2 linked regions of the Homo sapiens genome follow. The protein of the gene in region 2 interacts with the protein of the main gene of each other region in a pairwise test. Each region holds a gene or a part of one and is shown on either strand. Other genes may lie near its edges. The genes, in order: PEG10 and SMCHD1.

The links.
Region 1: the proteins of SMCHD1 (region 2) and PEG10 interact in a two-hybrid assay, tested with the Homo sapiens proteins (one large-scale study listed by BioGRID).

The regions. Positions count from the first base shown.
Region 1 is NC_000007.14:94,666,230-94,670,384, forward strand, and holds the end of PEG10 (retrotransposon-derived protein PEG10), read left to right. Parts: 3' UTR 1-3,466; downstream 3,467-4,155.
Region 2 is NC_000018.10:2,658,646-2,662,474, forward strand, and holds part of SMCHD1 (structural maintenance of chromosomes flexible hinge domain-containing protein 1), read left to right. Parts: intron 1-3,829. UniProt on the Homo sapiens protein: Non-canonical member of the structural maintenance of chromosomes (SMC) protein family that plays a key role in epigenetic silencing by regulating chromatin architecture.

The sequences.
Region 1 (4,155 bases), on a different chromosome or scaffold from region 2:
GTGATCCTCTCGCTGCACCCTTAGAAACTTCACCGTCTTCAAACTCCATTTCCATGGTTCTGTTAATTCTCAAGGAGCAGCAACTCGACTGGTTCTCCCAGGAGCAGGAAAAACCCTTGTGACATGAAACATCTCAGGCCTGAAAAGAAAGTGCTCTCTCAGATGGACTCTTGCATGTTAAGACTATGTCTTCACATCATGGTGCAAATCACATGTACCCAATGACTCCGGCTTTGACACAACACCTTACCATCATCATGCCATGATGGCTTCCACAAAGCATTAAACCTGGTAACCAGAGATTACTGGTGGCTCCAGCGTTGTTAGATGTTCATGAAATGTGACCACCTCTCAATCACCTTTGAGGGCTAAAGAGTAGCACATCAAAAGGACTCCAAAATCCCATACCCAACTCTTAAGAGATTTGTCCTGGTACTTCAGAAAGAATTTTCATGAGTGTTCTTAATTGGCTGGAAAAGCACCAGCTGACGTTTTGGAAGAATCTATCCATGTGTCTGCCTCCATATGCATCTGGGCATTTCATCTTCAGTCCCCTCATTAGACTGTAGCATTAGGATGTGTGGAGAGAGGAGAAATGATTTAGCACCCAGATTCACACTCCTATGCCTGGAAGGGGGACATCTTTGAAGAAGAGGAATTAGGGCTGTGGACACTGTCTTGAGGATGTGGACTTCCTTAGTGAGCTCCACATTACTTGATGGTAACCACTTCAAAAGGATCAGAATCCACGTAATGAAAAAGGTCCCTCTAGAGGATGGAGCTGATGTGAAGCTGCCAATGGATGAAAAGCCTCAGAAAGCAACTCAAAGGACTCAAAGCAACGGACAACACAAGAGTTGTCTTCAGCCCAGTGACACCTCTGATGTCCCCTGGAAGCTTTGTGCTAACCTGGGACTGCCTGACTTCCTTTAGCCTGGTCCCTTGCTACTACCTTGAACTGTTTTATCTAACCTCTCTTTTTCTGTTTAATTCTTTGCTACTGCCATTGACCCTGCTGCAGGATTTGTGTCATTTTCCTGCCTGGTTGCTGAGACTCCATTTTGCTGCCACACACAGAGATGTAAGAGGCAGGCTTTAATTGCCAAAGCACAGTTTGAGCAGTAGAAAACAACATGGTGTATATCTCAAATTGCCTGACATGAAGAGGAGTCTAACGGTGAAGTTTCACTTTTCATCAGCATCATCTTTCACATGTTCATTATCATCTGCTCTTATTCTTGCATGTTTAAACACTTAAAATTTTTAGTATAATTTTTAGTGTGTTTTGAAGTGGTGACTAGGCTTTCAAAAACTTCCATTGAATTACAAAGCACTATCCAGTTCTTATTGTTAAACTAAGTAAAAATGATAAGTAACATAGTGTAAAATATTCCTTTACTGTGAACTTCTTACAATGCTGTGAATGAGAGGCTCCTCAGAACTGGAGCATTTGTATAATAATTCATCCTGTTCATCTTCAATTTTAACATCATATATAATTTCAATTCTATCAATTGGGCCTTTAAAAATCATATAAAAGGATATAAAATTTGAAAAGAGAAACCTAATTGGCTATTTAATCCAAAACAACTTTTTTTTTCCTTCAATGGAATCAGAAAGCTTGTCAATCACTCATGTGTTTTAGAGTAATTACTTTTAAAATGGTGCATTTGTGCTTCTGAACTATTTTGAAGAGTCACTTCTGTTTACCTCAAGTATCAATTCATCCTCCATACATTTGAATTCAAGTTGTTTTTTTGTCAAATTTACAGTTGTCAATTGATCTTCAAGCTGCAGGGTGCCTAGAAATGGGCCGTTGTCTGTAGCCCTGGCATGTGCACACGGACATTTGCCACCACTGCAAGCAAAAGTCTGGAGAAGTTCACCAACGACAAGAACGATTAGGGAAAATATGCTGCTGTGGGTTAACAACTCAGAAAGTCCCTGATCCACATTTGGCTGTTTACTAAAGCTTGTGATTAACTTTTTGGCAGTGTGTACTATGCTCTATTGCTATATATGCTATCTATAAATGTAGATGTTAAGGATAAGTAATTCTAAATTTATTATTCTATAGTTTTGAAGTTTGGTTAAGTTTCCTTTCACTCAATTGATTTATTTTGTTGTTAATCAAATTTATGTTAATTGGATCCTTTAAATTTTTTTTGGCATTTTCCAACAAAAATGGCTTTATTCATAAGAAAGGAAAAAAATCAATGGAATTTGATATCTAAAGAAGTTAGAAAGGGAGCAAAATAAAAAACATAAAGGAGATAGATGAATTAGTAAGCAAATCAGTAGTCGAGTTTTTCAAACTGGCAAAATTAATTAATTGACTTTTAGCCCAAATTTACATTGTTAATTAAATCAAGAAGGAAGAAGATCTAAGAGCTCCCATTGATAGGCAAGCCTAGAGAGAACTAGCTAAATTTATCATGCTAGGATATTGAAACACAGAAAGTTTACATACATTTATGAAGGGTCAATTTAGTTTGGACAGTGAGGTATTTGTCTTAGTGGAAAAAAGGAGAATTAGTCTGATCAAATCGTGAAGTAATACAGTGAACTTGCAGGTGCACAAAATAAGAGGGCCACATCTATATGGTGCAGTCTGGAATTCTGTTTAAGTTTGTAGGTACCTCTTGGACTTCTGAATTGATCCAGTTGTCATCCACCACAGACATCTCACATCAGATACAGACAGTTCCAAGATTGACAACAGAGAACAACCTGCTGGAAAGACCTGGGCAGAAATGGAGAGCCCTGCGGGAACCATGCTACATTTTCATCTAAAGAGAGAATGCACATCTGATGAGACTGAAAGTTCTTTGTTGTTTTAGATTGTAGAATGGTATTGAATTGGTCTGTGGAAAATTGCATTGCTTTTATTTCTTTGTGTAATCAAGTTTAAGTAATAGGGGATATATAATCATAAGCATTTTAGGGTGGGAGGGACTATTAAGTAATTTTAAGTGGGTGGGGTTATTTAGAATGTTAGAATAATATTATGTATTAGATATCGCTATAAGTGGACATGCGTACTTACTTGTAACCCTTTACCCTATAATTGCTATCCTTAAAGATTTCAAATAAACTCGGAGGGAACTGCAGGGAGACCAACTTATTTAGAGCGAATTGGACATGGATAAAAACCCCAGTGGGAGAAAGTTCAAAGGTGATTAGATTAATAATTTAATAGAGGATGAGTGACCTCTGATAAATTACTGCTAGAATGAACTTGTCAATGATGGATGGTAAATTTTCATGGAAGTTATAAAAGTGATAAATAAAAACCCTTGCTTTTACCCCTGTCAGTAGCCCTCCTCCTACCACTGAACCCCATTGCCCCTACCCCTCCTTCTAACTTTATTGCTGTATTCTCTTCACTCTATATTTCTCTCTATTTGCTAATATTGCATTGCTGTTACAATAAAAATTCAATAAAGATTTAGTGGTTAAGTGCAAACTGTGTCCTGATCATTTCAGCATCTACCAGCATCAAGGGAATGGGGTGGGGTAGGGTGGGGAAGGCTGAGAGAGTAGGGAGAGTGGGAGAGGCTAGAGTAGGGTGGGGCTGTGGGGAGGGTGGGATTGTTGGAAGGGTAGGGAGGTAGGAGGGTGGGTAGGGTAGGGGTGGAATTGAGTTTGGGATAGTGGGGTGGTGGTATAAAGAACATTATTGATTACAACCTAGTATGAATTATATAGCCAGAATACTCCAGGAAATCAGTTATTCCAGCTGCAAAAGTTTAACATATAAAATAAAGATACACAATTAATAGCAACTCTGGTTGCTATTATCACAAACTTTAACATCAGTTTTACTTTAAATACTTGAGATTCATTAATATAAAATTATGAAGTATTAGGACATAGAAGAAGAGTTTCAAAGGGCTGCTAGGTTCATATGACATGACAGTCACATAAATATGACTGTTTATTGGGAAGATAGTGACTAAAAGGAAAAATCTAGAACTAATGAAAACACACAACTAAAAACTGTCTACCCTCAGAAGCAGGCTACCAGAGTAGCTATCCATCAAGCAGAGCTCACAAACTCCAATCGTGTGCAGGGTGGTGGGTGGGTTTGAAGAATTGGGAGTAAGGGTCCTCAGCCAAGAACTACTGAGTTATTAAGTACCTGCCCTGGGGGTT
Region 2 (3,829 bases):
TTTTAAGCATTATTAGATTGTGCCTCGGATCCCATAACTTTGTCTCCATTACGTACTCGAAGAACTGAATTAAGTCAGTGAATTAATAATCTGAGATTACATGGTCAACAAGCAGTGAAACTGGGATTGGAATTTAGGTCAATTTGATTCCAAAGCTTATGTATACATATACATATATATGTGTGTGTGTATATATATGTATATGTATATATACATATATATACACACATACACACATATATACACATATATACGTGTATACGCATATATACATATATACACATATATACACATATATATACACACACATATATATATTTTTTACACTACTCCACACTATTTATTAGAACCATCACTTTTGTCCTTAGGGGAAGAGACAAAATAATATACTAAAGTTTTTGTTAAAATGTAAATTAAACCAATAAATGTTTGTAGTGTCAGGCAGTATTATGGGTGATCCTAAACTGTTACTTATTTATTTATTTTTTTTGAGACGGAGTCTCGCTCTGTTGCCCGGGCTGGAGTGCAGTGGTGCCATCTTGGCTTACTGCAACCTCTGCCACCCAGGTTCAAGTGATTCTCCTGCCTCGGCCTCTTGAGTAGCTGGGATTACAGGTGCCTGCCACCACGCCTGGCTAATTTTAATACTTTTAGTAGAGATGGGGTTTTGCCATGTTGGCCAGGCTGATCTTGAACTCCTGACCTCAGGTGGTCCACCTGCCTTGGCCTCCCAAAGTGCTGGGAATACAGGCATGAGCCACCACGCCCAGCTCTAAATTGTTATTTGAATAAAGTTCACCTCATGGAAAAGGAGAGGGAAGAAATGGAAAGGACAAATCTGCAAGAAGCCCTTAGACCTCTGATAAGCAGCTGTTGACTCACCTGAGCCCTTGTGGCCTTGCAGAATCAACGATTAGAAGATGACTCATTTGGTTAGTTCTAAAATATGCCCAGATGTTAAGTCCCATGTGTGCATATCCCCCCACCACCAATTTGAAGAAATTGTCTACATTTTCCTTTGTGTGGCTCCAATGTTTTTTGTTGTGCGGCTATTCTAGGTGTTTTGTATTTTAATATAAGATGTGCTCATCAATTTCTACAATAAACTTGAGATTTTGAAAAAAAAAAAAAAAAAAAGCAGAAAACTATGGCTTAGCAAGTGCCATAGTAAGGTAACGAAATATAATGGAGCCACATTAAAAGCTGACTAGTTTGCAGAGTTTCAGAGCAGTGCTAATTAAGCTGTGTGCTTTCTGACTAATCCATGGATGAAAATTACCTGTTGTTCAGAGATAGTGAAAAAATAATTTTAAAAATAAAATTAACTGATCATTTTGGTAGGTAATCATTTTATGCACTGCAAGTCAGTTAGTCCTTAAATATTTAAGAGAAGTTGGGGACGGCATAGTGGCTTACACCTGTAATCCCAACACTTCGGGAGGCCAAGGCGGGCGGATCACCTGAGGTCAGGAGTTAGAGATCAGCTTGGCCAACATGGTGAAACCCCGTCTCTACTAAAAATACAAATATTAGCTGGATCTGGTGGCGGGTGCCTGTAATCCCAGCTACTCGAGAGGCTGAGGCAGGGAGAATTACTTGAACCCGGGAGTCGGAAGTTGCAGCGAGCTGAGAACGCACCGCTGCACTCTAGCCTGGGTGGCAGAGCGAGACTCTTGTCTCAAAAAACAAACAAACAATAATAAAATAAAATACTTAGAAAAATTGTGAATTCAAGAAATAATTTTTATAGATGAAGCAGGGAAAACAAAAAGATAGTTTATGTGTCTTAATTAAATAATAATAAATTTATAGATTAAAAATCCATGGTTTTTTTTTTTTTTTTTTTGATGGGAGTTTCACTCTTGTCACCCAGGCTGGAGTGCAGTGGCGCAATCTTGGCTCACTGCAACCTCCGCCTCCCAAGTTCCAGCGATTCTCCTGCTTCAGCCTTCCAAATAGCTGGGATTACAGGCACCAGCCGTCATGCCCGGCTAATTTTTGTATTTTTAGTAGAGATGGGATTTTACCATGTTGGCCAGGGTGGTCTGGAACTCCTGACCTCAGGTGATCGATCTACCCACCTCGGCCTCCAAAAGTGCTGGGATTACAGGCATGCGCCACCATGCCCCCTGGAAAATCCATGGATATTTAATATGGATGAAAAATCCATGGATATTTCATATGGATTTTTGATGTGGATTAAAAACCATGGATTTTTAATATGGATTAATTTTAAAGTTTATTGCAGCACTATTTACAATAGTAAAGACGTGGGACCAACACAAATGCCTATTGATGATCAACTGGATAAAGATAATGTGGCACATATACACCATGGAATACTATGCAGCCATAAAAAAGAATGAGATCATGTCCTTTGCAGGGACGTGGATGAAGCTGGAAGCCATCATTCTCAGCAAACTAACACAGGAACAGAAAACCAAACACTGCATGTTCTCACTCATAAGTGGGAGTTGAACAATGAGAACACATGAACATAGGGCGGGGAACATCACACACAGGGACCTGTTGTAGGGTAAGAGGCAAGGAGAGGGAGAGAATTAGGACAAATACCTAATGCATGTGGGGCTTAAATCCTAGATGACAGGTTGATAGGTGTGGCAAACCACCATGGCACATGTATATCTATGTAACAAACCTGCATGTTCTGCACATGTATCCAGGAACTTAAAAAAAAAAAAAGATAGTTTGTGTGTCTTAATTGAATAATAGTAGATTTATAGATTAAAAATCTATGGGTTTTTAATATGGATTAGAAATCTGTGGGTTTTTAATATGGATTAGAAATCTGTGGGTTTTTAATATGGATTAGAAATCTGTGGGTTTTTAATATGGATTAAAAAACATCTGTGGGTTTTTAATATGGATTAAACATCTGTGGGTTTTTAATATGGATTAAACATCTGGGTTTTTAATATGGATTAAACATCTGTGGGTTTTTAATATGGGTTAAAAATCAAAAGAAAATGAACTATTTGCTCCAGTGCAGGAAAATACAGGCAATACTGGATACAATTAGATGGTCAGGAGCGATAACCCGGTTGCCATTGTTTGAAGAAGAGAATAAGGTGCTAGCATTCCTATCCGTAGATAATTTGACAGCTAGGAAATAGGGGGAGTCTTCTATGTAGTTAGTGAAGGCTAAATGAACTATTATATGCAGTTATCGTAGAAGAGTACTCAAAAAAATCTGTAAAAAATAAAGAAAGGCCGGGCGCGGTGGCTCACGCCTGTAATCCCAGCACTTTGGGAGGCCGAGGCGGGTGGATCATGAGGTCAGGAGATCGAGACCATCCTGGCTAACAAGGTGAAACCCCCGTCTCTACTAAAAAAATACAAAAAATTAGCCGGGCGCGGTGGCAGGCGCCTGTAGTCCCAGCTACTCGGGAGGCTGAGGCAGGAGAATGGCGTGAACCCGGGAAGCGGAGCTTGCAGTGAGCCGAGATTGCGCCACTGCAGTCCGCAGTCCGGCCTGGGCGACAGAGCGAGACTCCGTCTCAAAAAAAAAAAAATAAAATAAATAAATAAATAAATAAAGAAAGAAAGAAAGAAAGAAAGAAAAAATAATAGACTTATGTGGGATTATATGGAATAATTAGATATGTTTAGGTGAACATAGATCTTAAAAAAATCATTTGCACATAGTTTTTCAGTAACTACAGGATGCATAATTACATGATTTAACAAGTGGGACATTGGCCAGGCCTGGTGGCTCACGCCTCTAATCCCAGCACTTTGGGAGGCCAAGGCAGGGAGATCATCTGAGGTCAGGAGTTTGAGACCAGCTGGCCAACGTGGTGAAACTCTG